Homo sapiens: one gene and its partners. The protein of the gene in region 3 interacts with the protein of the main gene of each other region in a pairwise test. Each region holds a gene or a part of one and is shown on either strand. Other genes may lie near its edges. The genes, in order: MAL, SLC38A1, SLC10A1 and C2.

What was found.
Region 1: the proteins of SLC10A1 (region 3) and MAL interact in binary tests that used the Homo sapiens proteins (3 or more experiments, as listed by UniProt).
Region 2: the proteins of SLC10A1 (region 3) and SLC38A1 interact in binary tests that used the Homo sapiens proteins (3 or more experiments, as listed by UniProt).
Region 4: the proteins of SLC10A1 (region 3) and C2 interact in binary tests that used the Homo sapiens proteins (3 or more experiments, as listed by UniProt).

What each region holds. Positions count from the first base shown.
Region 1 is NC_000002.12:95,027,985-95,036,126, reverse strand, and holds part of MAL (myelin and lymphocyte protein), read right to left. Parts: intron 1-8,142. UniProt on the Homo sapiens protein: May be involved in vesicular trafficking from the Golgi apparatus to the cell membrane. Plays a role in the maintenance of the myelin sheath, and in axon-glia and glia-glia interactions.
Region 2 is NC_000012.12:46,258,377-46,266,518, forward strand, and holds part of SLC38A1 (sodium-coupled neutral amino acid symporter 1), read right to left. Parts: intron 8,141-8,142; exon of another isoform or gene 8,070-8,140; intron 1-8,069. UniProt on the Homo sapiens protein: Symporter that cotransports short-chain neutral amino acids and sodium ions from the extraccellular to the intracellular side of the cell membrane. The transport is elctrogenic, pH dependent and driven by the Na(+) electrochemical gradient.
Region 3 is NC_000014.9:69,774,547-69,781,014, forward strand, and holds the end of SLC10A1 (hepatic sodium/bile acid cotransporter), read right to left. Parts: intron 4,815-6,468; coding exon 4,636-4,814; intron 3,984-4,635; coding exon 3,787-3,983; intron 1,843-3,786; coding exon 1,736-1,842; 3' UTR 870-1,735; downstream 1-869. UniProt on the Homo sapiens protein: As a major transporter of conjugated bile salts from plasma into the hepatocyte, it plays a key role in the enterohepatic circulation of bile salts necessary for the solubilization and absorption of dietary fat and fat-soluble vitamins.
Region 4 is NC_000006.12:31,922,889-31,931,025, reverse strand, and holds the start of C2 (complement C2 isoform 1 preproprotein), read right to left. Parts: upstream 3,310-8,137; 5' UTR 3,274-3,309; coding exon 3,228-3,273; intron 3,072-3,227; coding exon 2,862-3,071; coding exon of another isoform or gene 2,834-2,861; intron 2,295-2,833; coding exon 2,109-2,294; intron 1-2,108.

The DNA of each region.
Region 1 (8,142 bases), on a different chromosome or scaffold from region 3:
TTCTTCCTCCCAGAGGGACCCCTCATGCCATCATCACCCCCAGCTAGCCTTAGACAGTGTTCCTTATCTAATCTGAAGGCAAGAGCAGGACTCAGCGGGTTTGGATCAGTTTGTGAAGAAGGGGATAGAGATTTGGGATTAAAAGATCGAAGAGCTGTTGCTGGGCACGGTGGCTCACGCCTGTAATCCCAGCACTTGGGGAGGCTGAGGTGAGCGGATCACGAGGTCAGGAGATTGAGACTATCCTGGCTAACACGGTGAAACCCCGTCTCTACTAAAAATACAAAAAATTAGCCGGGTGTGGTGGTGGGCGCCTGTAGTCCCAGCTACTCAGGAGGCTGAGGCAGGAGAATGGCGTGAGCCCAGGAGGCAGAGGTTGCAGTGAGCCGAGATCATGCCACTGCACTCCAGCCTGGGCGACAGAGCAAGACTCTGTCTCAAAAAAAAAAAAAAAAAAAATCTAAGAGCTGAGTGGAGGGCCATAGTTTATATTAACAAGGCAAGTTGGACTGGGAAGAGCCCCCTGTTCAGGCTTGCAATCTCACCCCCCTTGAGCCCCAGGGAAGCCTCTCCCATAGCACACGCTGCCAGCAGGACAAAGTGACTGCTGACTTAACACCCACCTCCCTCATGAGCTAGAGGATGGTCACTAGTTCCTGAATGCACAAAAACTCCTCTCAGATCCACAAATCTAGGGGCTTTCTGATAGGCATGTCTTCATTTGAATGGAAAATTCTGCCTACCACATCTACACCTGCTGGCCTTACCCAGCAGGATAAACAGAAACCAAGAGGTTCTGTGAAAATACTGGGTAAGCCACCTGTAAAAGGCAAAATCCGTGGAAATGCTGGACCAGACAGGAGTGGCTTAAATGCAAGAAAAACAAAAGGGATTTATGGGAGTCACCAGGTAGGTTAGTAATGTGAACAAACCAACAAAACAGGTGTACACCTGCCAGAGGCGACAGAAGGCTGCCCGCCCAGGGTCTGGGAGGGTCCAAGGGAGATGGAACTCCCAGAGTCTCTTGGGGACTGGCAGCCTTTGTCAGTTTCACCCTCTGTCCGCCTTTGAGGTCAAGGACTCATCTTATGATTCATCAGTGTTAGGTAGGTGAGAGAGGAGACCCGAGCCCCTTCCCTACCGATGCTTGCTGAGAACAAATGTTTCAGAGTTCTTGATCTGTGCCAGGGATGTGGGCAGACTTAGGGTGTAGGCACGAGACAGACAATAAGCAAAGGTCTGCAGGATGTGCTCTGAGTGCCAGGAAAGGGTGCTAGAAGGGTGGGCTTCCCGGTGGAGGGGATGGGTTAGCTCGGGCCTAAAGGGTCACCTCCAACAAAGAAGCATTCCCACTGCTGCCCCCAACCTGACCACAGATGGAGATGAAGGAGGTCTGTGGCTGGTTTTAGAAATAGTCCTGAGACCCATAAGCTCGGCGGTTCCTTTCCTGCCAGGCCCCTCAATCCAACTATGCCCTCCTGCCAAGCAGCTGGGGGCCAGGATGGAGGCTGGGGGAGGTGAGGGCACAGGTTTTTGCCAGAGGCTGCCCCCTCCCTGAACTGATGCCCTTGCATACAGCCGACACACTGACACTGATGACAAATCGCTTTTGAAAGCTTTAATCTGAGCCTGCTGATAATTCATTCCTACGCCTGCGGGCAGATGTAGCTATGTGTCACACTCAGAATCCACAAAGCTCTGCCTGCCCATCTTGGCACCAGGCTGGCAGGGTGATGCAGAGAGGCTTAGAAAGCAGCCTGCTCCCTGGGCAGAAGGCAGGCTGGGGCTGCCACACTGTCCTCCACCCCTTGGCTGCTCCATCAAGCTCTTAGCTGAGGACACACTGACCTCTGCCCTCAGTTGTTCCTTCTTGGTGAGAGGAGAGCCACTGGGAAGGCCCCAGGAAGGTGGTGTCTGTGCAGGACTCGGTGACTCCAGGGAAAAGTCAAGTGTGCCCTCCACAGCCTGGCCCAATCCCAATCCTCATGCAGCACCTGCCTGAGAATGGAACAGAGGGCACCTATGGCAAAGGTGATGGGGGCGGGCCTTGCGGACCCTGCCATCGGCACAGGTCGGCCAGTTGGTTTCAGAGCAGATGCTTAAATTATTAGTCAACTAATAATAACAGCACTTGATAGCTATGGGGCAGTAGCTATGTGAGGCAGGTGCTGCTATGTCCAAATTTTACTGATGCAGAAACTGAGGCACAGTTACCTGCCCACGTTCCCACAGCTGCCGGGTGCTCCTTTGATGAGCTGGCTGAGGCCCAGATCCAGGCCCCCATGGGTGTGACAGTTACCTCTTGTGTCTAGGGTCAGCTTTGGAAATGGCCATGAGATTTTTGTTTTGATGACAGGTTCTCACTCTGTCACCCACACTGGAGGGCAGTGATGCGATCACAGCTCACTACAGCCTTGACCTCCAGGCTCAAGCAATCCTCCCATCCCAGCCTCCTGAGTAGCTGGGACTATGGGTGCAAGCCATCATAGTTGGCTAATTGTTTACATTTTTTGTAGAAATGGGGTCTTGCTATGTTGCCCAGGCTGATCTCAAACTCCTGACCTCAAGTGATCCTCTCACCTTGACCTCCCAGAGTGCCAGGATTACAGGCGCGTTAACATGGAGCCTCCTCCATGTTAACTAAGTGGCGAATAACCACTTAGTCTTTAGGCCACTCCCAGCCGGCTTCTCCCTCCCTGGCCCGCCACTGAAACAATGAGTCTCAATATCCTCTGTTTCTTCAGAGGAAAACAATAGCAAGGTTTGTGTTTAAGACACATACAGCACAAGATGAAATGCCAAAGGATCCCGCTCCCTCTTCGGCAGATGCAGGCCTGTAGTTCAGTCTGAAGAAGAGGGAGGGGCTGCCATGCAGACCCCACCCGCCCCACTCCACTGACAGGTCAGGGAACGTCATCTTCTGTCCTTCCCCGTGGCCCTATTCCTGGAGTGCCCACCTCCCGGGCCCCCCGTGGGCCTCCCTCCAAGTTGGTTCTGGGACCTTCACTTTCTGTCTCCTCCCCCTGCCCTTCCAGCCCCTCCCCTCCCAGCCCACTGCATTCTCACAGGGACTGGAGGCTGTGGCCAGGAACTGCAGGTCAGTGAGGCTGGCTGTGCGACCCTGCACCTTCTCTTCCCGCTGCGGAGGTGCTGTGGCTGGTGACAGGCTTTCCTTTGATTTCCTACATATGTTTTGCAGGACCCAGGGCCCGGGTACATTAAAATGATTCACCCAATCCTGGCATAGAACACTAGCTGTGAATGAGGTAGCAGCGGCAGAGAGCCTGGGGAGAAGTGCTGCAGAGAAGCAGAGTGTGGCACGTTCATGACCCCAAGAAGGGAAATGGCTACACTGCTCATGCCCAGCTAGGAGCTCACTGGGTATCAAACCTTTCACCAGGGTGTCAAAGGCAATTTGGAGCCTTCCAAATTGATGAGAGACCACGAGGGACCTGCTCCATGCTCCATGCCCTTGGGAACAATCTGAAAGCTGTGAGAAGGAGCTGGCCACACACCCCAGAACGTTCCTGCTTCAAGGACAAGGGGCACAGTCCCCCACTGTCCTCACACCCATCAACACCAGGAGGGTACACCCTCTGGGGTGTCCTATCAGCACCTGTCCCTGAGGCCTGCTGGTCCAAAGCACCATGTCCGGCACTGACACTGGAGGGGCCAGGAGGAAGCCCTGGAGTGGCTTAAGTCAGCCCCCAGCCCCTTCTAGTTCAAGTCTGGCTGGCTCTGTCCTGTGTCAAGGCAGGTCCCAGGTGGTCCAGTCCCTACTCCCAGCCCCTTCTCTGGAGAATGTGTCTGGGCCCAGGACAAAGCCAAGCCACTGCTAAGGCTGTGCAGAGCTAGTCTGTGCTGGCAGCACAATATGCTCTGCCCCTCGCCTGCTGGTGTGGCGAGTATAGGTGCAAAATTCAGCCCTTGTCCCTGGCCGACCTGAGTGTGAGCGCTGCTGGCAGCAGCATCGTGGGGCTTCCTACTCACTTCTGAAAGCACTGGGACAGAAAGGGTGCCTTTGCACCAGTTCTGGCATTGCCCCATCCCTGTGAGGTGGGGGAGTGACTTATGAAAAGCTAAAAGGCAATCTTTTAAAATATAGCTCAGGTGTGATGACACATGTCTGACAATCCTGTGGAGATGAGCCCCATCATCACACTTAGCAGTTTCCAGGGAGCAGCTCAAAGTTACTGAGTCCTCACCAAAGCCAGCCTCTGGTCTTGAAAAACCAGAAAAGTCACTTCTCCACCAAACCCCTGTGAAATCTCTGTCTAGAACACTTCTCCTCCCTTTAGAGAGGAAGAGAGGAGAAAACACGGAAGATCAGGCAGTAGCCCTCTCTAAATAGCTACAGAGAAGGGACAGAGCCAGGAGCCAGTGGACACAGTCAGAGAAGGCCAACTCAGCCACCATCCCATTCTGGCCAAGCGGGGCCTGCCCCACTCCCTGGTGCCTGTAGGAGAGGCTCCTAGCTAGCACAGCAGGGAACTTTCTCCAGAACAGAGGAGGTCCCTGGTCTGACTTGTGAGAACCTCAGAGCACCTGGCTGCTTGCCCCAGCCTCTCCCTGAGAACTGTTCCCACTATTCTATCCCCCATAAAAATATCAAGAGGGTGGCCTGGCCTCGAGATGTCCGCTCCAAGTCTCAGCCAGTCAGTGGAGGGTGTGCAGTGCAATGCGGGTTCTTCAACCTGCCCTGGACCTCGTGACTCAGAACCTGCAGGGTGTGTTTTTGACAAGGAGACCCAGAGGAGGTGTGAGCTTCCCAGTGGTCCTGAGCTGTCCCTTCATTCCTGTTGGGGGAGAGAAGGGACCAAGCCTTGCCCAGAGCTGCCAGGTGGGCAGGGCTGCCTACTCAGGATCCCAGTGTGCCTTCTAGTGCAAGCAAAATCTCGTGTGGCTGATTAGGTGAAAGGAGAAGCCTGGGCATGATCTGCTCACTGCCAGAAGTGCTCACTGGACCCTGGAGACCCGGTGACCCAGGCAAGTTGCTCCCTGTCTGAGCCTCAGTTCCCTGCCAGCTCTGAAAGTGAGGTTTCTGTCATTCTACGTCTCTGGTCTCCTAGGAGTTCCCATGCCACCTTCTCAGTGCAGCCACAGCTTGGACCACCTAATGCGAAACTGCCTCGCTGGCCCATGGCCCAGTCCCGGCTCTGTCGGGCTGGCTATTCCCCAGCCAGGTAGAAATCTAGCAGAAGTCCCCAGACCTCTCTGGTCACTCTTAATAACAGTCCAGTCACTTTGGGTCACAGAAAAGGTGTCATTTTAGTCATTACTCTGTCCAGTTCACTGTAACTGTCAAAACTGCAAACTGATTGCGGGTGTCTCCCCACCCCAACCCCAACCCGTGATGTGACTGCACTTCTGTTCGTGTTTCTGAGGCACAGAGGAGGAAGGGCATGCCCCTGGAGGGCTGGGCGGCATTCCTCACACCCTCACTCACAACCCTGCCTCCTTTGTGGCCTGGGGAGGAGGGGGCTGAGTAGATGATCTCACAACCCTCTTCAGGCACTTCCTTCACAAGTCCTGAATGGGTAGGGGGTCTCTCCTGGCACTCTGTGGGAGACCTCGCATCTGGGGGCCCCAGCTGAGACAGAAAGCCTTCCCTGTGAACCTTTCATTCCCTGAATGGTGGCCCAGTGTCAAGGAAGTCCCTGGCTTAGAATGGAGACGGAGACAGAGACAGAGAGTGGCTCCAAAAGGAAAAGTTCCTCACTGGGTGGGACTTTTGCAGGGGAGCAGACGAGAAGCAAAGCCCTGGGTTTTGTTGGAGGAGGGGAGAGCATTGGCTATTTCACCCTTGGCCTATATGGGGCTGCACTGATGACCACACCACCTGCAATAGGGGCACAGCCTCTGTGGCTCTGGAGGTATTTGGAAAGGCAGTCTCACTTCCTAGTTGGGCCTGCCTTCCTCTTCCTGTGAGGACTCTGCAGCTTTCAGAGGTCAGGAGGTCTGGGATAGGGGTGCTGGGCCAAGGAGAGGTTGCTATGCCCCACCCTGAGCTGCCACCCTCACTTGCTCCAGTGGGCAGTCCCCTCACCATGGAAGTGGCGCTCCACCCGGATCAGCTTGGACATCTGCGCCTCCCAGGCTGTTGGGAGGTCAGGCATGGGAATCTGAACTATGAGTCATCAACAACTCAGTGGACTACAGATTTAAAAAATAATCAAGCATTTCACACCCATTGGACTAGCAGAAAATTATAAAGTCTGACGCTACCAAGTGATGAGGAACAATGGCGACTTTCATGTGCTGCTGGTAGGGGCCGGGGAAGGTCCAGGTTTAGCCTGAAGCTTAAACAATCAGGAGGACCATCTTTATAAGAGAATACAAAATTAGGCAGAGTCTTGGAAGGGGCTTGAGTAAGTAGGGGTCTTGAACTTAATTAAACATCAGCTTCCCAGTAAATCTGCTCCTGGGGTGTGTAAATTGGAATTACTCTTTTGGACGGCAATGTGATAACACCTGGGAAAATGACAATGTGCATATCCCCTGTGACCCAACAAGTCACATCCTCCAAGTGTCTCTGGGAGACATTTCCAACAGGTAACTACAGAGGCAAATATGAGAATGTTCTTAGCAATGCTGTCTGCAATAGCTAAAGGCAGCAAATTGGAACTATCCAAAGTGTCTATTAACAGAAGACTGGGTAAACAAAGTCAACATGTATAAATCTCAGAACATAATGTTGCCTGGAAAGCATGTTGCAGAAGGATACGTACTGTATGCTGGCATTTTCATAAAGTGCGAAAACATGTAAAACAATGCCATGTGTAGTTCATATGTGTGCAGTAAAAGTCTAACCTGTGCTTGGAAGTGAACACCACATTCAGCCTACAGGTGGCCCTGAGGACGGAGGGAGAGAGAGAATAAGATAACAGAAGGATGTCTAGGAGGCTTAGATGCCATCTGAAAGCTTCATTTCCTTAATACATAACAGCAAACAAGGCAAAATATTAAGATTTGACAAAGTTGGGCAATAATTATGTAGGTGTCTGTTAAAGTATTGTATATGTTCTTCTGTGGCATTTGAAATATTTCTATTTTTTGTTTTTTAAACTTGAGGTGAAATTCACATATCATCAAACCAATCATTTTAAGTTGACAGTTCAGTGGCATTTAGTACATTCATGGTGTTGTGCACCCACCAACTCAATCTAATTCCAAAGCATTTTCATTACCCCCAAAAAGAAACCACATAGCGATTAAACAATTGCTCCCCTTGGTCCCTGGCAAACCACCAGGGTTTGTGTTCTGTCTCTATGGATTTATCTATTCCAGTATTTTATATAAACGGAATCATACACTATATGACATTTTGTGCCTTGTGTCTTTTGCTTAGCATAGAGTTTTCAAGGTTTATCAACTTTGTAGCACGTATCAGTACTTCATTCCTTTCTATGGTCAGGTAGTATCCATTGTTTGGATATGTCGCACTTTGTTATTCAGTTCATTGCTGATGGCCACTGGGCTGTGTGTTATTGTGAAGACTGCTGCTATGAACATGCATGTGCCAATACTAAAGTCCCTGCTTGGAATCCTTTGGTTATATACCCAGGAGTGGAATTGCTGGGTCAGAGGGTAATTTTTTGAGGGAACACCAAACTGTTTTCCACAGTGGCTGAACCATTTCACATTCCCGCCAGTGGCATACCAAGGGTTCCAATTTCTCCACATCCAATACTTGATGTTTTCCGTTTTTTGGATAGTAGCCATCCTAATGGGTGTGAAGTGGTATCTCATTGTGATTTCTTTCTTTCTATTTATTTAATTTATTTACTTATTAATTTATTTTTTTGAGACCGAGTCTCACTCTGTTGCCCAGGCTGGAGTGCAGCGGCATGATCTCGGCTTACTGCAACCTCTGCCTCCCAGGTTCAAGCGATGCTCATGCCTTAGCCTGCTGAGTAGCTGGGACTACAGGCATGAGCCACCCAAGCCGGGTTTTTTTTTTTTTTTTTTTTTTTTGTATTTTTAGTAGAGATGGGGTTTCACCATGTTGGTCAGTCTGGTCTCGAACTCCTGACCTCAGGTGATCCACCCACCTCAGCCTCCCAAAGTGCTGGGATTACAGGCGTGAGTCACCGCAACTGGCCTCATTGTGGTTTCAATTTAGTTTTCCTAATGCCTGATGAT
Region 2 (8,142 bases), on a different chromosome or scaffold from region 3:
TTTTGGAATATTTGCATACATATTATGAGATATCCTGGGGACGAGACCCAAGTGCAAACTTGAAATTCATTTGTTTCATATACACCTTACAAACATACCCTAAAGGCAATTTTACATAATATTTTAAATAATTTTGTGCATAAGACAAAGTTTTCACTGCATTTTGACTGTGACCTATCACAGGAGGTTAGATGTAAAATGTTCTACTTGGGCATCGTGTCAGTGCTCAGAGTTTTAAGTTTTGGACTTTTGTGGGTTTTGGACTTTTTAAAATGTGTTTATTTATTTATTTATTGAGATGAAATCTCACTCTGTCACCCAGGCTGGAGTGTAGTGATGAGATCTCTGCTCACTGCAACCTCCGCCTCCCAGATTCAAGAGAATCTCCTGCTTCGGCCTCCCGAGTACCTGGAATTACAGGCACATGCCACCATGCCCAGCTAATTTTTATATTTTCAGTGGAGATGGGGTTTCACTATGTTGGCCAGGCTGGTCTTGAACTCCTAACCTTAGATGATCCACCTAACTCAACCTCCCAAAGTGCTGGGATTACAGGCGTGAGCCACTGTGCCCAGCCAGGGTTTTGGATTTTTGGATTAGGGATGCTCAACCTGTAATATTGTATTATATATATGGGATTTTTGCTAAAAGAGTGGATTCTAGGTGCTCTTGCCACAAAAAAGAAGTGACCACGTGAGATGATGGATATATTAATTTTCTTGACTCTAGTAACCATTTTACCACGCATATGTATACCAAAACATCACGTTGCACACCTTAAATACATATAATTTTTAAAGCGGAGAAAGTGTTAAGCCTAAGGTCAACAATGGTTCTATAATTCCGGGCCAGCTAGTCCCATAACTGACTGTGTCTGTTTACCCACTTGGGGTTCTTGGATCCTCAGGGTTCATAGATGATAGTGATAAGGATCTAAGAACTAACATGGATCTATATTTCAAAAGGCCTCAAACAGGCTAAACAGGTTAACTAAATGGTGAGGTATCCATACTGTTAGCAAGGCTTCATTAACTTGATGTGATAATCCTAAATTTGATTGGCAATTTTATATACCTTTGAGTAATAAAAATGGGAAATGAATTAATATATTAAAGTCAACACTCAAAACTCATTAAATAGTATACTTAATATCTGGACACTGCATTGCATATAATTTATACTTTAATTAAAATAAAAAATTAAAGCCGATCATCAAAATCTTTGAAAATCTGGGGCTTTTGGAAGGTGGGGAATAATAAAAATGGCCTTTGGTAGTGAAAAACCTGGGAAGCTAGTAAGTGGTCTCAGAAAAATAAGTGGTTTTACTCTCTTCTTGCCCAAGACTAATGGTTTAACCTGTGCTTAAGGTCCTGGCTCTTCTGCTAGGACCTTGTTTCTCTACTTCCTCTCTCTGCCTTCCCTTCTTGACATCCATCATCCTCAGAGCTCTTTATCTGGAACATAACTCTGTCTAGAACCTTGAACTATCATCACACCCCTCTCTTTACTGCTAGCAGTCTCTAAACTACTTGCTCCTGCCACCACTCCCCTGAAATCATGCCTGATTAGGAAATTCTGGCTCCACCACTTAGAAGCTGTGTAGCCCCAGGAAAGAAGGTTAACTTCTCTTTGCCTTAGTTTCCTCATCTGTAAAATGGACTTAAAGCAATACCCATCTGATACAGTCATAAAGATTCCATGACTTGGTCCATGTGCAGCACTTAGAACAGCGTCTGGCCCGGGTTTTGTAAATTATTGTGACCATTGTTCCTGTTTTCTGACTTCTCCCAAATAACTCCACACTGCATCCTCCCAAGACCTTCTTGGTCTCCTCTGCCAGATCCCTCCTCCTCCCAACTTTCTGTGTAGAAGTAGCTCTTTGGGCCTCGACTCTTCTTGCTCCACATATTCCAAATTCTTTCCTTTTTAGGGCTTCAGGGCTGTAGTGTCAAGTTTCATTCTACAAAGGCATCTTTCAGATCTTTCTTCCCAGTCTTTTTCACTTTATAAAACTAGAATTCCTTTGCGTTATGAAATAGGATCTCCCTCATAAATACAACTTGATCATGATCATGCCACTTAACATGTCACATGTTTCTTCATCTGTAAAATGAGAGGGCATGAAAGAGAGGTTATCTCTCAGGTTCTTTCCTTCTCAGAAACATTTCCATAAATTCTTTTCAGACTCCTGCTGCCTTCTGGACTGCTCCATTAGGATGTTTATCATTACCTCAGATTCCACATGCCTGAAGCAGAACGCATCACCTGACCTCACATGCCAGCATTCTATTTCTGTTAAAGATATAATGCACCTTCTCCTTGTCACTCAGACTTGAAACTTGAGTATGGCTTTCATACAACCTCATATCTAATCAGTTGCCAAGTCCTGCCAACATTCCTTCACAAAATCCTTTTCCTTTCCCTTATTCCTTACAGTTTCACAGCCTGAACTTTGCCACAGTCACTCTCCGCCACGCTACCTCCTGCTTCTTGCCCTCTCCCACCTATAGAGGCAGATTCTTCCTGAAAAGACAGTCTTGCACATTCCTCTTTCTGCCTTGCCAATCATAACTGTTCCCTCTACAGGATGAGGTCTAATCTCTAGAACCTCAGACAGCTTTCTCTTTAATTTATGCTCCCACTATATTCCTTCTAATTTTCCATTCCTGCAATGGGTCTACTCTTATGCAGTTTTCTGCTTTGTTCACACCATCCCCCTGATCCTGGACACACCCTCTCCACCTTCCCATGAAGCCTATGCTAACTTAAGTATGACCTTTCTTTCAAAGCCCAGCTTGCTTGCTTTTTTAAAAAATTCAAGCCAACTCTTCTGTGATGCCTTTCTCCAATGACCAACGCAGGCATTGCCAAATACCTCCTGGGGGCAGGGAGAGGGACATAATTGTTCCAGTTGAGAACCTGCTTGACTGTTTACCTGTGATGAATTCTTACAGCAGTTTCGTGTAGATTACTCACTGGCTTATAGCAAGGGGGCTCATATTTCAGTAATCTTTTTATTTACAATTTCAATTCCTTGGGGACAAGGACCATACATCTCAAAGGTCTAGTATATGGTGACAGTAAACACATGTTAACAATAAAAATGAGGACTAAATTTAAAAAGAAAGCTATGATCACCTGCCTGCAGACAATATATTCAGTGAGCATCACAAACACCATCTTCCCATGGAAAACAAAACAAAAATGGGAACATGAAGCAATGTGGATAGCCCTACCTCATAGTTTTCATTAAGTTTACCACCTGATCTCCTTTACATTTGATCTGGGCGTGTGGGATTTATGTAAAAATGCATTTAGTATTGTAAAGAACTATATAAACGGAAGGTATTTATCATTACTGTCCCAGCCACTATGCTTGGAATGTTTAAGAATTCTTGGCATGATTTCTAAAAGTCCAGAGAAGGAGTTGTATTAAAGAAGTGGTTCTCAACTGGGGACAATTGTGTCCCTCTCCCTGCCCCCAGGAGGTATTTGGCAATGCCTGGAGACATTTTGGGTTGCAGTAAGTGAGGGGGTGCTGCAGGCATCTAGTTGAGAAAGACCAGGGATGCTGGTAAACATCATACAATGCACAGGACAGCCACACACAACAAAGAGCTGTCTGGCCCCAAATGCCAGTAGTGTGAAGGGCAAGAAGCCCTGTGTTACAGAAGCTCACAGGGGATGAGTATGGACCCCCTCTTTGTGGGGCATGGAGATGAACCGCTAACTTCCTTGGACAAATTGCCCAGTGCATCCTATCTTAACAGGATCCCAAAACCTGCTCTTAATCGTTCCATAATTCCTCTTGTCTTCAAGTTCCCATATGATCTTTTAAATGTCTGTTATCAACATGACCAGCTTATGATGTTGGTAACTAACCTATCTATATCAGAAATTTTGAAACAATTCCAATTTATTCAAGACAGAAAAAATAAACTCTAAAGTTAATGAAGTCAACCTATAACTGGATATAGGAGGACAGACTGTATATTACATTTAAAAAAAAAACACCAAAAGAATTGAATCTTAATTAATTAGAACAGTGAGTGTATATGAGTAGTGTGAATACCAACAAAATTAAAAATATTTCTTGTCAATTGAAAATTAATGGATTTAAATAATTACTAAAAACTCATGCAGTTGAAAACAGCCTGGAATATTTCAGCCCTTGAGAAAAATCTCTTTATTTGCATATATGTTTTTTGTTCTAAAGATATTTCTGATCAAGGATTGCTATTGTACTAAAAAAGATGGATACAGTTTTGTGTGTTTGTTTTTAAGCCCTAGCTAAGTTATGACTCCTAACAAAATACTCAAGGAAAAACAGAAATAATAAGAACTTTAAAGCATCACAAAGTGCTGCATATAAAGAGGATCATTTATAAAAAGAAATCTTAAAAATAGACTTTTATTTGAAAAGAGAAAATGTAATAAAAGACACTATATAATTCAATACCAGATGATGGTTACAGTCTCAGAACAATTCCTTTCTCCTCTCTGGGTCTCTGTCTCCTCACCTTAAAATAAGAAGATTGGATTAATGGCTGCTCTCTCAAAGACCTCTCCCAGTTCTCTGAATTAATGATTCTATACACTATTTCTTAATGAATCACTTCCAAAGATAAGAAGGTGGACTTGTAGACAAATCTCTTGAATAGTTGCCTTTGTAGGCCAATAGGCCTCAGTTCTAACAGGACATTGGAACAAACTGGGGAGCTTTAAAAAAATAAAAGTGATAAGGGGACACTACACACACAACAGTCTCTGACTTAATTGGTATAGGACAGGATCCAAGCATGGTTATTTTAAACGCTCTCCAGAGGAGAGCATTCTTATGTGCAGCCAATGTTAAGATCCCCAGATTGAGAATAAAAGTTAAAACAAAAGAAGCTAGTGCTCAGGTAGGTAAGATAAATGGGCAAAGCAGACTGGGCATAAGGAACTAGAGAACACATGTCCCATCTATTTCCCTCCAACTAGTGGCAGGAATGAGCCTGGTCTTTTTATTTTTATGTTTTTCAATAAATGCCAGAAATCAAAATTCTAAGTGAAATTCTGATATTTAAGAGTTGGCAACTAATTTCAAATAATTTTAAAAGAAAGCGTAAGTCACATAAAATATGCCCACAAGCTTAATTTGGCTCTCTAGCCACCAGTTTGCAACCTAAACAAAACCGGTTCAATAAATTAAACACAGTGTTTTCTCTGTGCTCTGACCTGTCTGTCTCCTGCTCAGAGCCTCTTTCTCCTATACCTTGGTCCATAGCCTATCCCTTTCTTTTTCCTTTCCATTGTCGCTTTCTTTTCCAACCTTCGCCATTCCTAAGAGATGGAAACTGAGATCTACACATTAAATCTTCATGTGGCTCTGGCTGTATCACTGGACAGGCGTCTATGCCTGGGAAAATTCAGGTTATAAACTGTAACCTGAGGCTGTGGCTCCATGATGTCAACAAATGGTTGGTTTAGTAAAATCAGGGGGAAAAGTCAGTCAAGCTCATAATTTCACACTACTAAGACTAAGACTTTGTCAAGCAACATATGGAGGTCCTCATTTAATTTCTGATGTTTGTTTTGTTTTCCTTGCTTTAAATCTAAACCAATGCATATCAAAATCACCCCTGATATTTTCTAAGCTCCCATATTTGGGCTCCATCCCAGGCCAACTAAATCTGAATCTCTGGAGTTGAAGTCTTGGCACTGACAGCTTTTAAAACACCCTAGATGAGTCTAATGTGAAGTCTGCTCTGAGACTCACTAATCTAAAACCATCACCTGACCCTGAAGATTAGCAGCATGCTTAATGCCAGATGACTATCATCTTGAATAGTTTTTTTAAACTTGTTCAAGGACTTTCTCAGCTCTGCTCTCATTGTATCTTCACAACTCTGAGGTACGCAGCACTGATACTATTATTAGCATTGGACAGATGAGAAAATGAGGCATAAAAATGTGAAATGAGTTGCTCAAGGGTACCCAGCTAGTTATTGCCAAAGACACATTGTAACCTCACTTGAAACAGAGTTACTTACTAATAGTAGAGGAATTCAGTGATTGGGAAGGTAACATGGTTAGGGGAACTCCTCTGTTATTAGTAAGGTTATCACTAGAAAACAAATATGTGATCAATTTTCAGAAATAAGTACAACAATATTTTTAAATTTAAAATCTTATTTTAAATCTAGGGTCAGTGTCTTTTTTTAGGTTATTGAAGTTAATCTTTTAATTTTACTTAAAATTTTTTTATTTCAATAGATTTTGGGGTATCAGTGATTTTTGGTGGTTATATAAATGAATTGAAAGTGATGAAATCTGAGACTTTAGTGCACTTGTCATCTGAGTAGTACACATTGTACCCAATCTGTAGCTTTTTATCTGGCATCCTCCCTTCCAACCTCTGGCTTCTGAGTCTCCACAGTCCATTATATTACTCTGTGTGCCTTTGCATACAAGATGTCTTTTTCGAAGTCTGTCACACATTCTTCAAAGTACTTCTGTGCACATACTTCTCCTACCTCCTCACCACCTTTCATAGATGTATATTCTCCCAGAGACTAAAAAGATCCAGGTAGTTTCCATCAAGATATATTTTCAGAAAAGTATTTTTAAAAGATTACATAGTCACAGAATTTCAGAGGTAAAGGGAACTTTACTGATCAACTTTCTCTCCCTCCTCTGGTAGATATGTTTAATTCAATACATATGGAATGCTAACACTATACCAAATACTTCACATTCATTATCTTCATTAAATCTTTACCATCACTCAGTAAAGTGGGTACCACCAACACTACCACCAGCATCATCATTCCCATTTAGCAAAAGAAAAAACTGAGGCTTAGAGATGCCAAACACCTTGCCCAAGATTCCTGGGTGAGTAAGCTGAGGCCTGATATTTATATTTGACTCAGAGCCTAAGCCCCTATTCACCACCTTCCATCACCTGGAGTAACAACAGTCCAAAATGTGAAGGATAAACAAATACTTATGAAAATGCCAGTGAGGTGATCAGTGAACACTTCTCCCAAGAGGTGGAAAAGTGGCATCAGGGATAGGCCATCACAAGTACACAGGATTTCAGTAGGCATTCTGGACTGGAATCCAATCCACACAGATATTGAAGCAGAAAAGTGATAGGGAGGGAATAGGGTGAACTGTGAGAAAGAAAATATCAAGAGAAAAAATTGGAAAGAGATGAGAAGGCAGATTGTGAAGGGTCCTAAGTGTATGGCTAAGGAATTTAGACTGTATTTGTGTGCAATGGAAACCCTCAGAGGTTTTTAAAAGCAAGGTCCTTTAACAAAATGTGAACTGAATTTTAGAAATATAAACCTCATGAAAGAATGGAGATTTAATTAGGGGAGCATAACTTGATATGGAGGAGAGACCAACAGGAAAGCTGTTCCACCTCAGTAACTGGCTGTTTCACTCTTAACCATATGTTGTGCTTGCATTTTTCTCCACCGCCCACTCCCACTGCCCCTAGGTTGTTCAAGGCACCTCTATATCTGTTTCATATGTCTCCAAGTCTAGGTAAGGTGACAGGGACCTGAACTTGGGCAGTGGAAATGGAGACAAGAGGACAAGTGTGAGGGGTATTTTCAAGGGCCTGGTCACTGCTCAAAGTGGGAAGGGCAGTACGAGAAGGAGAAGCAGAGAAGAAAAAGACTCTCATTTTCAAACTTAGGAGAAGGGGAACAGATGAGATATAGAACGGAAGGGATGGCCAATAATATCACAAAGAGATGAACAAGATGGCCTGATCAAGGTCTCAAGGTCTCGATCCAACAAGTATTTATTAAGCAGGTACTATGTGCTGGACATTAGAGGAACAATGAGTAAAATCGGTTTTTGTCCACAAGCATCACCCAGAGTAAAGAAAAGAGTAGCAATAGTCAGATATCAGAAACATGGTGCTCCTTTCATTAAATGGCCTTAATTCATGAAGCATCATAAAAAATATACATAAACAACATACATATAGGTTTAAAGCTCCAAAACACCTTTAAAATCTATTCATCTATCTGTTCAATTATATTACAGTCAAAGAAGAGTGCAATAAGTACTTGCTGTTCCTTCTTCCTGTTCCTTCCGCTGGCCTTCTTCCCTCAATTATGGAAATAGCTGATCCCTTTTCAT
Region 3 (6,468 bases):
GGGACTCTCAAAACCAGGCTTCAGATACCATGAGGAGTGTGGATGTAATCCTAAGGAAAGGTTTAGGACCTGCCTTTGTAGGGCATGGTTTAACCTTTGTTTTCTATGTTTATATTAGTTTCATCTTTATTCCTTGCTTTTTTTTTTTTTTTTTAGACAGGGTCTTGCTCTGTTGCTAGGTTGGATGGAGCGCGGTGGTGCTATCTCGGCTCACTGCAACCTCTGCTTCTGGGGTTCAAGTGATTCTCCTGCCTCAGCCTCCCGAGTAGCTGGGACTACAGGTGTGTGCCACCATGCCTGGCTAATTTTTGTATTTTTAGTAGAGATGGGGTTTCACCATTTTGGCCAGGATGGTCTCAATCACTTGACCTCATGATCTGCCCGACTCGGCCTCCCAAAGTGCTGGGATTACAGGTGTGAACTACTGCATCCGGCCATCTTTATTCCTTTCTAAGAATGGTTTGAGGCCAACCCTGTCTTCCTCAAAAGCTAAACAAATGTGTTCTTACATAACTTGTATGTAACCAAGTCTCCTAGCAGATGATGTTGGTTAGATAATAGAGAAAACAATTTGAACAGGTAGGTATATATGGATATAATAAGTAAAAATGATAGGTGGTAGCCTTGTCAAAAATCTGCGTTTTTAAGAGGATGTTAGTAACCCAAATCTGTGTTTCTCGTTTTGGTGTTGGGAGTACTTGTTAGTCCTGCACATTTGCCAAACTGATACCCGAAAACTATATTGTCTTGGTTTCATTTGTACCTGACCATACAAAATGATAAAAATCCCAAGTAACTAATAAGCATGATTGACTTTTTGTAATTGTTAATATTAGTTGTTAATCATTTACTTGATCCTTATTTACATATGATATGCAAAATGTTTAAATTTTATTAGAGACAATTTGAAATTTGTGAATTCTAGGTATTTGAACATTTTTCTTTGAATTGGGAAACGACTCATTTTGGCAGTAGTTTGCTGTACCCAGTTTTGGGGGCGCCTTGTGTTAAAACCAAATACCTACTGAACTTAAAAAAGAGATTATTAGTGAGGTAACATTGTGTTAATGTATGTGTTTGTTTCCTGGTTTTTCCTTGTCAAAAGTTTTCCTCCTCTACTAACATGATGCATTCGCCCAGTTTTTTCATTTCATTAGCTATTTTTTGAGTTTGTTTTGCCTGATTGCATCTTACTGTGTTCACTTTTGCATACTTGATGTCAAATTTGACTTTTCGGGAGCATCATCCCAATAATGTCAAAAGGGAAGGAATAGGATCTGAACTTTTTAGGTTAGAACTTCTGAAGTTTAATTCTACAGCACTTGTGAGCATTTATTTCTCTTTTGGGTCACAAAACTTGGAATGGGATTTGGGTATTTGAGTAATGGGTTAAACATATATATTGATTAGTTCAGGAATTGAGTGACTTTAAGATGCTTATCAGACACTTTTAGAGATCCCAGCAAGAGGCAGATTCGGTTTCTGGTTTCATAGAGTTTACAGTCACTGAACAAGTCTTTAAAATAAGTAGCAAATTCTAAGTTGGGGATAGGTGAGGCTTCTTGGGTAGACACCCTGTCTGTGTTCCCGGCCAAGACTTGATGATTCTGATAGATGTACTGGAAATGCTGGAGAAAGACTCAGGCAAGACTGGTGTTTTTGCTGCTCTCTCTAGTTTACCACACTGGCTTTCAGAATTGCTTTGGGACCAGAATCCAGGCCACCAGGGGAAGGGCTAGGCTGTGCAAGGGGAGCAGTCCTCCCCTTTGTAGGTGCCATTTCCCAGAGCTCCTGGAATTGTTTCTTCAGTTGTGGCAGCTGTGTAGATCATTTTTGTTTTATCTGTAAAGTTAAAAAGGGTTACAGGTGTAGAGAGAGAACAAGAGGAGTGAACAATGAAGCTTGTTTAATCTGGAAAGTACAAAAATACCAACTCAGCCCTAGAGTGTGCTAAGTATATATTTTCCATCTCTGTCGTCTCTCCCATGGTTTACTCTTTAAACTCACTTTCCCCTCAGTCTCCCTAATGGTAGTACTAGTAGTAAAAGTCCTAATGAATTAGACTATTGTGTCTTCATCATCACTTCACTTCTAACTTCGTTATACAGTAAAACAACAGGAGATGAGTTTATGTATGCAAGGTCTGTGTTGCATTCAGGGAATGAGGAGGCAGGCAGGAAAGATCTTCGAGAAAGTCTAACCAAGAGAGTTTCCAGTTCTTCCCTCCAACCCCCAATTGATCTACCTCTTCTTGTCCGTGGTGTAGGCGGTGATGCAAATTTGAAGATAGCTTTGATTCCTGCACCTTTCTATACAGATGGGAGAGTTCTCTATACAGAGTTGTTCTCCCATCAGGTGCAGGAATGAAAAGTATAAAAACTTGACAGATTCCTCCCCCCTGAGAATAGCTTCTTGGGGCCATTAGGTCCAAAGAAATACGTTGCTTTGATTTAGTGTTTCCACTGGGGTCTTCTGAGATACACTGTGAGGAAAGTTCTTTTCAAGTCTTGAGAGCTAAAGATCCATAGAGTATTGTCCTTTGAGGTCACTTCAGGTCTTTCTGGTACTAAAACCTCAAATCTGGGAATTTGGTTGGTCTAGAAACTTCTGTGCACTTTTTGTAAGAGGGCAGCAAATCTCTTGCGTTCCTCTCAGATAAGCATCAGAGTAGATTCTTTCTCACAACTCTACTGTAGCTTTGAACCAAAGCTTCTAAAATGGTTCTAGTGTATGGTCAGCCTGTACTTGTTTCGTGTTGGCTGCTTGGCAACCTAATTACATCTTAGCTAATTGCAAAGGGAGAGAGAATCGGCATTTGCTTGCTAGTATAATGTAACAAATTCCAATAGGGAAAGTTGTGTATTTCTCCTAGGGTGTAAATCACAGTCCCTAGGGTCTAGAAAGGTTTTGAAGGGGACTTCAATTCATGGACATGAAGGGACAGTTGAAGGATTTGGGTAGGTACTTAGGAAGAATATACTAATGTTGAGAGTTATAATGAAATGTGTTATAAAGTGGGTTTGAATGTCCTGTTTTTTTTTTTTTTTTTTTTTTTTTTTAAAATTGGTGTTAAAGTGCACTTTGAGGAAGGCACTCTGTTCTCTGGTCTGTCTTGAGGTTCAATTTTATTTTGAAAGGTAATACTCTGAGCATTTTAGAGAAGAGATGCTATGTTAACCCCATAGTGATCAGAGTAAAGTATAAATCATATTAAGTTTATTGTGGAGGTAGTTACTGTTTAACAACCGTATGCTTAAGTTTCCTTTACTGCGTAACTAGAGTTGAGGAATCTTTTTTTTTTTTCTTTATTCTGGGTTATATTAGGGTGCATTGCTTTCATATGTTTTTCCTCATACGGAGGTGCCAGTGGTGCTGTGGCTCTGATCTGGTTCCAGGAAATGAGAACCTAGTCCTGAGAAATGGAAACTTCCCCAACTCTTGCGAATAGAGGCCTTTCACACAACTAATAACCTCAGTTGTCCAAGGCAGTTTTGTCCTATGATGTCTCCCCACTGAGACAAAGCAGCCCAAATTGCTTCAGTTTTATGAGGTAAACTGCATCTGCAATTTCATTCTCCCAGCTAGAAGGAAGAAATGGAGTGCAGTTGATGGAAGTAGTCTTGGATCTTTAATGCTTCTTGGGTGCTTCTTGGGGCTACCTGGTTCTTAGTGACTTGATAAGAGTTAAAGCCCTATCCAAAAAGTCCCTGCTAGAAACTTGCTTGTTGGCAGGCTCAGGTCTAATATTGGAGCAGAACTTGAAGTGGGGATAATTTCAGTACTCACCCTTGGGAGTCTTGAATTTCTCATAGCACCAAAATATGGCAATGAGGAGAAGCCCTTCTCCAAGCTGGAAAATCATGTAGAGGAGGGGAAAGAAGAAAAGTGGTCCAATGACTTCAGGTGGAAAGGCCACATTGAGGATGGTGGAACAGAGTTGGACATTTTGGCATCCAGTCTCCATGCTGACAGTGCGTCTGCACCTGTGCCGGTGAAGAAAACCCCACATACACTCAGAGGGAACTGGAGGGAGCAACTTTGTCCCAGTGCTGCTACCAAAGAGTTTCGCAGCAGATGGAATCTAGACCCTGGACAGGGGTACTTTGCTATTGCTGCTGGTGTTTGGATACCTTTGGTGTCTGGATTTTTAACCCGTTCAATACCTTCATTCAATTTTTTTCAAGTCTAAAGTCTCTTGTCCAGTTAGTGCATCTGAACATATTGCCAGGAAAGTGTCTTGCCCAGATTTCAGGTTCCTAGCTTCTTATTCGTTTCCTGAAAGACTAGGACAAGAATGAAGCCCATGGGACAGTGGGACCTAAAATAATACCTATCTCCAGGCATGCAGTGGCTCACACCTGTAATCCTAGCACTTTGGAAGGCTGAGGCAGGTGGATCACTTGAGCTCATTAGTTCAAAACTAGCCTGGGCAACATGGTAAAACCCTGTCTCCAGAAAAGTTAAATCAGCTGGTCATGGTGGCTTGTGCCTATAGTCCCAGTTACTTGGGGGGCTGAGGCAGGAGGATCAGTTAAACCCTGGAGGTTGAGGCTGCAGTGAGCTGAGAATGTGCTACTCCCCTCCAGCCTGGGCAACAGAGTGAGACCCTTTCTTAAAAAAAAAAAAAATACCTACCGTCCATTGAGGCAGAAGAGAGCAGAGAGAACATAACCCAGCAGAAAGCCAATAAAAGGCATCAGGGAGGAGGTGGCAATCAAGAGTGGTGTCATGGCAAACATGATGCTCTTCCCCACATTGATGGCAGAGAGAACTGTGACGGCCACACTGCACAAGAGAATGATGATCATCCCTCCCTGGGAATGAAGACAAGAAAAGGCAATTAGAAGAGTTGGGGATAGAGAGGAACAGAGGTGGGGAAGCACAGGTAGAAATTGGAGGTGGGAAACATTGCAATAAAACACTGGAAGTGGAAAGGAATATGAAAGACCTTTATCTTCTTTTTGGATTCCTTTCTTTAAATTTTTTTAAAATTATTAACATTAGAGACAGGGTCTTACTATGTTGCCCAGGCTGGTCTTACTCCTGGACTCTTAGCGGTCCTCCTGCCTTGGCCTTCCAAAGTGCTGGGATTACAGGTGTGAGCCACTGCACCCAGCCCATCTTTTTAGATTTCGTATCAGTAGCTAGGAAGCTTGGGGACAGCTGATTAACACTTTGATTATTACAAACTCAGCCAAGCACAGTTACTGCTTTTGACACATCTCTGGATAGCAGACTTTCAGTGAAGTGTTACGTGAGGCTATTCAGGACTCCTGCAAAATGGATATTATTTAAAAGTCAAGTATTTTTGGAACTTATATACACATTCCTACAATACTGTCATTGTTCCACATACTTTGAAACTCATGAGAACTTGTCATACATATTTGTCTCAAATACCTTGATTACAGATAGGGATTTTATCCATTTTAGGATCAATTCTGGAAATTGCCAAGAGTCATTTGAAACAAAGCTGGTAAACAAGGTGGATGATCAAGCCCGGAAATACGGTTTTAAACCCAAAATGATGTCTAATAATAAGGGGACAAACCTACTTTCTTGAGTGACCTGCAAATTGAATATGAAGGAAGTTCCCAAAAGAACTTTCAGAAATATCTTGGGTGATAACAACATCATTGGAAACTATGCAGGTCTACTCTGAATGAAATTATAGGGTTTTTCATTGTGCAACATAGGATGCAACCTTTCAAAGTGCATGTGCACTCCATGCACTTTGTACTTTCCAGTGTGCATTTTAGAGAATTGCGTCCTCCAAAATGATAAACAGGTATGTGTAAATTTAAGACTGTCCCTTTTATCTCCTGAGTAAAGAAATACTTAACTTTTCTCAAACTTACCATGTTATTTTGTAATAGTTACATGTGTTGGTTCATTTTTTGGTTCATTCACATGTGTTGCATTTTATATTTCCTAGTAACATTTTAAAAAAGTAAAATATGTATAGCAAAGTTTGCCATTTTAATCACTTTTGAGTGTACAGTTCAGTGGCATTAAGTACATTCATAATGTCCTAACGACATTTTAACATTTATATTGCTCAAATTTCAGCTGCACAGCTTTGTGTTTCTGTTTTTAATACTTGTTGCAACTGATATGATCATATAAAACATCACCTATACCAATTAGTGGTCCTATCCCAGCATAGGAAGGACTTTCACACATCTCTTGAATAACCATGTGCTTCAAGTTTTATTAAAAGACTTATTAGCTAATGAACTTCTCAGTTTACCTTTGCATTTTTAGTTGATTTCCCCTTTTAGATTTCTGTCTTTCGAATTTGTCCTTTACCCAACAGTCAAATAATTTTTAATCTCTATCAAGAGTGGAGTGGATAATGTAGGAGACATTGAGTTACAGGAATTGTCCACGAATCCAGAAGCCCTCTTCTTCTGTATAGGCATTCACTCTTATTCTCTCACTCATGTTCTCTGACTCTTGGGGACTGCA
Region 4 (8,137 bases), on a different chromosome or scaffold from region 3:
AGCACAAGGTACCTAGTCCATGGAGACAGAGGTCAGAAGAGCAGTTACCTTGTGGGAGGGGACAAGAGGGAACCTCATTCTGTCTTGGGTGGTGATTAGATGAGTGGATGCATTGTAACAAATCATTGAGCTGAATAGTTAAGATTTGTACATTTTACAATAGGTAAATTATGCCTCAATTTTAAAATAAGTTAGAGTCACGTCTAATAATTCAAGCATTACTTATCACAGTCTTACCAGGCATCTACTTCACCCTCCTACAGAATAAATGGCCATTTGCCAAAACCCAAGGGCATGAGTGGGGATCCATGGTCTGGGCCACTAGGTGAAGGTGGTCCTGCCATCTTGTGGACTCCGTGTCTTCTGTATGATGTGCTAAGAACCATGATCCAAGAAGCTCCCAAACCCACAGGCAAATGCAGCTCCAGGGAATCCTAGGAGCCCTACTTCTGCCAAGCAGAGCCCCTCACCATTCACAGGGGCAGCAATAACTATGACAAAAGTGCTTATGGCCAGGTGTGGTGGCACATGCCTGCATTCCCAGCTACTGAGGAGGCTGAGGTAGGAAGATCACTTGAGCTCAGGAGTTTGAAGCCAGCCTTGGCAACACAGCGAGATCCTGTCTCTTAAAGAAACAAAAACAAGGCCGGATGCCGTGGCTCACGCCTGTAATCCCAGCACTTTGGGAGGCCAAGGTGGGCAGAATCCCCTGAGGTCAGGAGTTTGAGACCAGCCTGGCCAACATGGAGAAACCCTGTCCCTACTAAGAATAGAAAATTACCGAGGCATGGTGGCGCATGCCTGTAATCCCAGCTTCTTGGGAGGCTGAGGCAGGAGAGTCACTTGAACCCGGGAGGCAGATGTTGCGGTGAGCTGAGATTGCGCCATTGCACTCCAGCCTGGGCAACAAGAGCTAGACTCCGTCTCAAAAAAAAAAAAAAGTGTACATGGCATTTATCAGATTCCAGGGGCTGTTTTTTTTGTTTTTTGTTTGTTTGTTTGTTTGTTTGTTTTGAGACAGAGTCTCACTCTGTCACCCAGGCTGGAGTGCAGTGGCACGATCTCGGCTCACTGCAACCTCTGCCTCCCAGGTTCAAGTGATTCTCCTGCCTCAGCCTCCTGAGTAGCTGGGATTAACCACGCCCAGCTAATTTTTGTATTTTTAGTATAGACGAGGTTTCACCACGTTGACCAGGCTGGTCTCAATCTCCTGACCTCAGGTGATCCACCCACCTCAGCCTCCCAAAGTGCTGGGATTACAGGCGTGAGGCACCGAGGCTGGCATTTTTTTTTTTTTTTTTTTTTTTTGAGACAGAGTCTTACTCTGTCACTCAGGCTGGAGTGCAATGATGCAATCTCGGCTCACTGCAATCTCCACTTCCTGGTTCAAATGATTCTCCTGCCTCAGCCTCCTGAATAGCTGGTATTACAGGCATGCGCCACCGCACCCGGCTAATTTTTGTATTTTTACTAGAGACGGGGTTTCACCATGTTGGCCAAGCTGGTCTCAAACTCCTGACCTTGTGATCCACCCCCCTTGGCCTCCCAAAGTGCTGGGATTACAGGCGTGAGCCACCGCACTCCAGGGCTGTTGTATATGCTTACTAATGTCAACTCATTTAATCCAGATGGCAATCTCAGGTCAGCACTCACTATCCTTGTCTTACAGATGGGAAAACTGAGGGCTAGAAAGGTTAAATAGCCTTCCCAAAGTCTGTCAAAGTCAGAGTAGGGCTTGGAACCCAAACCTGGCTTTAAAGGCAAGGCATTAAAGCACAGTACTTGACTCTCTCCCAGCATATCTTCCCTACAACAATCTGTGGGGCCTGAATATGAAGTCTTGCTTTGAGGCACTTAGAAAAGCCAGGCAGAGTGTGTGGAGGCTTTATGCTACATCTGAAGCTTAGCACCAGCTGCCTGGGGCCTGGCCCTTGCAGACTTGTGATGTGTGACCTGTAGACCTCAATTTACCAAAATCCAGGAATATTATTATGGCACACTGAACAACAGACTCCTATCCCCACAGAGGCTTCCTGGATGCACATTGGGCCCCAGGGTTCCCCAGGAGACCCCAGCCCCCTGTGTAGCCCATCAGCCAGAGAACTCACCCCCATTATCACACACAGCTGTTTCTCCATCCCACATGCCGTTGGGGCGACACTGACGCACAGGCGAGCCCCGCAATATGAAGCCATCCTCACACTCGAAGCTCACATTGCCACCCACGGGATAGGACCCCAGCCGTGGGGTATAAATGCCATTCTCAAAGGAGACAGGGGCTGGACAGCGCACAGCTGGAGAGAGAGGAAGTGGGTGGGGAATATAGGACTGGATGGATAACACCTGGGCTGGGGATTAAGCAGGTGATTTTATGCTGGAATGCATGGGAATGGTCAACTGGCTGTCAAAACACTGAAATATTAGGTTGCAACATGTGAAATTGCTGTTTTTGGCAACTGATTGAATATTGCCAATTTCACAGAGTCTAAGCGAACTGATTGATAAATAGCCACTTCCCTCAGTCTCCTGAGGGCCGTGGCCTCCCCAGACACTCCCCTTGGGATCCTCAGATGTCTAGAGGACTCCAGGACCATTCAGCATCTGTTCTGAATGGTCACTACTAGGCAGTCAATTGTACATAAAAAGTCATCCCTGGCTTTAGTACCCCACAGTCTCCATCAAGACCTGTTCCCAATTCCTTGCTACTGGCAATTGACATTTTCTGGATATTTTGAAAAGCCCTCTGCAAAAGCAACTTTGCCATCTAGTCAGGTTAAGTCCCACCCTGAGCAACTCCTAAACAAAAGTTCTGGGGTGGCCCCTGGTGTAGCACCCTGAGCAAAGCCCACAGGGAGCCTCACGTTTGCAGACCGCCTTAGACAGAGACCGGGTGGCTCCTGGGGTCTGCCACTGTCCGCTGCTCTTGCACAGCCGTGATGCTGGGGATGGGTACAGGCCCTGGGGGCAGGAGTAGGTGAGAAGGCTCCCAGGAGCCCAGCCATGGCTGAGGGTGAAGGTGCCACCCGAGATATTCACGTTCTGAGGGCAGGAGGGAGCCGAGTCTGCCAGACCTAGAGCCGTGGGAACAAGGAGACAGCAATGGAGAAAGAAGGAAGACACAGATGAGAAAAGGAAAGCAAAAGAGACTGTTTCACACATGGGAATTCAAGCTGGGAGCACCAACCTCACACACAGGACCCTGACGTTCCCCCTTCCCTGCCTCCTACCTGGGTACAGGAACAGCAGGCAAAAAAGAACCATCAGTGGGCCCATGGTGTCCTCCCTAGGGGCGGCGAGAGGTAGAGAGCCGCGGGAGGGAAAAGGTCATCTGACTTCCCGAAAACTAGAGCTGGGTCAGCAGCTGCTTCATTGCTGCCAGAGAAGAAAAACCAGGGAGTGGCAAGGGGGATGGTCTTCTGTTAGGGAAATAATAAGCAGGGATTGGGGACTGAACTGAAGGGTGAAACCTTTGCCCTGTCTCCCTGATGCTAATATATCTATAGGGTCAATAGATCTCCCCCACAGGCTTTGTGTACTGCCCCCACGCTCCACCCACCCATGCGTGCACATGTGCACCATACACGCATGCTCACAAACACGCAGGCAAACACATATTTGGGCTCGTGTGTGCACACATGCACCTTGCTCTTGTGTGAATAGTCAATAGTCTAAAGCACACAAACCCACAAACCATCCAAGATATTGCAAAATATTTCATTTAAGTAAAGTTTTAGTGTTCTTTTGGGTTGTACCAAGTGGGTTTTACTTCCTGAGAGCCTAGAACAGTTCTGTCTTCTTGAAGATAAACTTCCGAGGGGGGTGAAACTAATTTTTTTAGAACTTCTTGATAAATAGGAAGATTGACAATACTTTTTTATTCCCTACAATCCTTCCCTAGAGATAATCTAGGTGGAAAAAATGAAATCAACACTTAGTTTTGGAGACAGGAAAAATGTTTACAACATTTTTACGGAAAGTCTAGTAGATGAAATTCCCAACTGGCAAAGTAAATACATTTGGGGTTGGTTACTCAAAGGAATAAAACTTTTGCGGGGGCTGGGATATGCCTTTAAATCATAACCTACACTTGTATGAAATGCAGGAAGCAAAGAAACTTGAAGCTAGTGTGTTAGTCTCCCTGACCCACAGAAGTCTTTTCAATACCTTTTTGAACAATGTAGGGTAAAAATAAATAAGACCAATAAAAAAATGAACATGAAACCTCTCTGAAGTGATCATTTAGGTTCGTAAAAACCCTTTTGATTTATAAGTGAGTCCTTAGAGAACTGATTGAACCTAGAAGATGGAGGTTGCAGTGAGCCAAGATTGTGCCACTGCACTCCAGCCTGGGCAACAGAGTAAGACTACATCTCAAAAAGAAAAAAAAAAAATAAGACCGGGCACAGTGACTCACGCCTGTAATCCCAGCATTTTGGGAGGCTGAGGCGGGTGGATCATGAGGTCAGGAATTTGAGACCAGCCCGGCCAACATGGTGAAACCCCGTCTCTACTAAAATTACAAAAAATTAGCCGGGTGTGGTGGCAGGGGCCTGTAATCCCAGCTACTCGGGAGGCTGAGGCAGGAGAATCACTTGAACCCGGGAGGCAGAGGTTGCAGTGAGCCAAGATCATGCCACTGCATTCCAGCCTGGGTGACAAGAGCAAGACTCTGTCTCAAAAAAAAAAAAAAGAGTACACAAATTGAGACTCCCCTTGGACAGGGCTAAGTGCATGAAAATCAGGACATCCTGGTGTTAGGGACTCCAAAGTGGCTGCTGTGGCAGAGCTGCTAGTGCCTCCCCTGCCCCTCAAGTATCTTTTCTCCCTCCTTCCACAGTAAGAGATGGTTAGGGGAACACACAGTCACCCAGCTAAAGACCATATTTCCTAGCTTCCCTTGCAGCTAGGTAGCCAGGTGACTTGGTTCTGGCTAATGGGATGTTAGTAGAACTTATGTATGTCATTTCCAAGTTATGTCCCTAAAATAAAAAGGCAGTGTGCCTTTTCTTTTCATGGGCTGGAATATAAACCTAGCGGAGATCCGTCTTCCACCAGGAGGATGAGGGCAACATGCTGGGGATGACAGAGCAAACAGACAGAGGAGCCTGGGTGTCTGACACAGTGTTGATGTCATACCAGCCCTGCACAGCCACTTAGATTGTTACAAGAGAGAAATAAACTATCGTAAAGGTGGGGGGTATTTAAGGATGTTCACAAATACTGTAGCCTTGTCTTCTTTCAATCACATGGTAGGATAGGATTTCCCCAGCCACTTGTTTTAGCCAATAAGATGTGAGTACAAGTGATATGTATCACTTCCTGATGGAAGCTCAATGTAGTCTTCACCCTGCTCTTCCCCTCTGTATGGTAACGTCTGAGATGGTGGCTGCTCCACCAGCCAAGATCCCTGGGTGATATCGAAAGCACAGTACCAGCCGGGCACAGTGGCTCACACCTGTAATCCCAGCACTTTGGGAGGCCGAGGCAGGGGGATCACCTGAGTTCAGGAGTTAGAGACCAGCCTGACCAACATGGTGAAACCCCATCTCTACTAAAAATACAAAAATTAGCTGGGCGTGGTGGCATACGCCTGTAATCCCAGCTGCTCAGGAGGTTGAGGTAGGAGAATCGCTTGAACCCGGGAGGCAGAGATTGCAGTGAGCCGAGATCACACCACTGCACTTCAGCCTGGGTGACATAGGGAGACTCTGTCTCAAAAAAGAAAAAAAAAGCGCAATACTCGGCTGACTCTCAGTGGATAAGTAATATGACCAAAAAATAAACCTTTGTTATTTTAATTCATTGCATTTCTACTAATGCAGGAAAAAAAGTACCCACCCAATATGTAGGAAATTTAAAAATGATTTATTCTTTCTCATATTGGCCAGAAGGTTCTTCTGCTGATCTTCCATGCAGCGGCAGTCAGCTAGGGGCTGAGTTCAGTTAACAGTAGGACAGCAGGTCCTTCCTCCCTAGCCCTCATAGCATGGCAGTCTCAGGACAACTTCTGAGGAATCCAAAACATAAGCTGCAAGGTCTCTCGAGGCCTAGCCCCAAAAGTCACATAACATCACTTCTGCCACATTCTATTGGTCAAAGCAAATCACAAGGTCAGCCCAGATTTAAGACTGGAGGCATAGAATTTACCTCTTGATAGGAGGAATGGCAAAGTCACACGGCAAAGGGGCAGGCACATCAGAATAGGAGAGACTGATGGCTATATTTTGTAAGCCCTCCTATGGCAACAAATATTTCTAGGTTGTTGGTTACCAGAACGTAATGAAGCCTAACCTGACTGAACATTCAAATCACTAAACTTTGGGTGCCTTTTAAAGCCATCAAACTAATATGTAACAGCTGCCTTCAAAAGAAAGGGCCTTTCTTTCATGAGTTTTTCCCAGTATTTGTTGAGCTACATCAACTTGGCACAGTGTGGCAGAATTCATTCTCTCTTCCTGCTTAAGTAATAAAACTCCCAAGTTTTCTGGGCCCACAGAGTATGTTCTTAAGGAGAAGTGTTTACTCCTCAATGTATAAAACTTCTTCCCTTCCCACCAGCTGGAATGTGGACAGAATGGTGGACTCTGGAACAGCCACCTAGATCACAAAATGGAAGTCACATGTGGATGATGATAAAGAAACAAAATTAAAGAGGCCCTGCTCTCCAATCCTGTAGAGCTAATAGGATTGACCTGGACCACTTATGCTCAGACCATTTAAGCTGCTGTTATTCTAGCTTGGTTATAACAAAGCCAAACCATGTCTAACTGATATACCTAGCAAGAAATCAATGTGAGAGCCAAAGGCAACACTCAGAGAAGTGTGTTTATTAGGATACACGTTAAACTTCTGTAATAAAGAGACCCTAAAATACAGTAACTTAAATAAGATAGAATTTTGCTGCACTTTCAAATAAGAGCCTCAGAGGCCGGGCGCGGTGGTTCACGCCTGTAATCCCAGCACTTTGGGAGGCCGAGGCGGGTGGATCACAAGGTCAGGAGATCGAGACAATCCTGGCTAACACGGTGAAACCCCGTCTCTACTAAAAAATACAAATAATTAGCCGGGCGCGGTGGCAGGCGCCTGTAGTCCCAGCTACTCGGGAGGCTGAGGCAGGAGAATGGCAGGAACCCGGGAGGCAGAGTTTGCAGTGAGCTGAGATCGCGCTACTGCACTCCAGCCTGGGAGACAGAGCGAGACTCCATCTCAAAAAAAATAAATAAATAAGAGCCTCAGAGGCCGGGTGCGGTGGCTTACGCCTGTAATCCCAGCACTTTGGGAGGCCGAGGCGGGCGGATCACGAGGTCAGGAGATCGAGACCATCCTGGCTAACATGGTGAAACCCTGTCTCTACTAAAACTACAAAAAAAAAAAAATTAGCTGGGTGTGGTGGCGGCGCCTGTAGTCCCAGCTACTCGGGAGGCTGAGGCAGGCGAATGGCGTGAACCCGGGAGATGGAGCTTGCAGTGAGCGGAGATCGTGCCACTGCACTCCAGCCTGGGTGACAGAGCAAGACTCCATCTCAACAAAAAAAAAATAAAAACAAAATAAGAGGCTCAGGGTAAGCAGACAAGGCTGAGATGGCGTGTGTGGCCCTGGCTGGCAGAGCTGCTCATCAGCCTCCTTCAGGCCTCCAGCTTCCTTCCATCTGTGGTTCATGCCTTTGGAAATTGTCCTTGTCTGCATGGTTGAAACAGGGTCTCCATCAAGTCTGCCTCCCACCCCACTCTTCCATTCATATTCCATTGGCAAAAAGTCAGTTATAGTCCACTGTCAGCTCTCCAGGAGGCCCAGTCGAATGTGGAAGGACCATGACCTGACCTGTGGGGCTAAAGATGCCAGACCTTTATTCCCCTCGGCACTCCCGATTAGCTTTTCAGTAGACCCCACCAGATGAGGGCGACCTTGGCTTCTCTATTTCTTGTACCATTCAAAAGCCCAGCAAATGTAACCGTGTTTTCACTCCAGGTAGAGGGAAGCAGGTGAATAATATCTAAAAAACAGACATGCCTCTCCTGCCAGCTTCTTCCATCTTGTCCAAATTTCTTCTTATCAATTCTAGGCTTCTAATATCTGCTTCCAAGGGTACAATTCCAAAGAGAAAAAACCAATACCCCAATTCTGTACTTCATCTCCT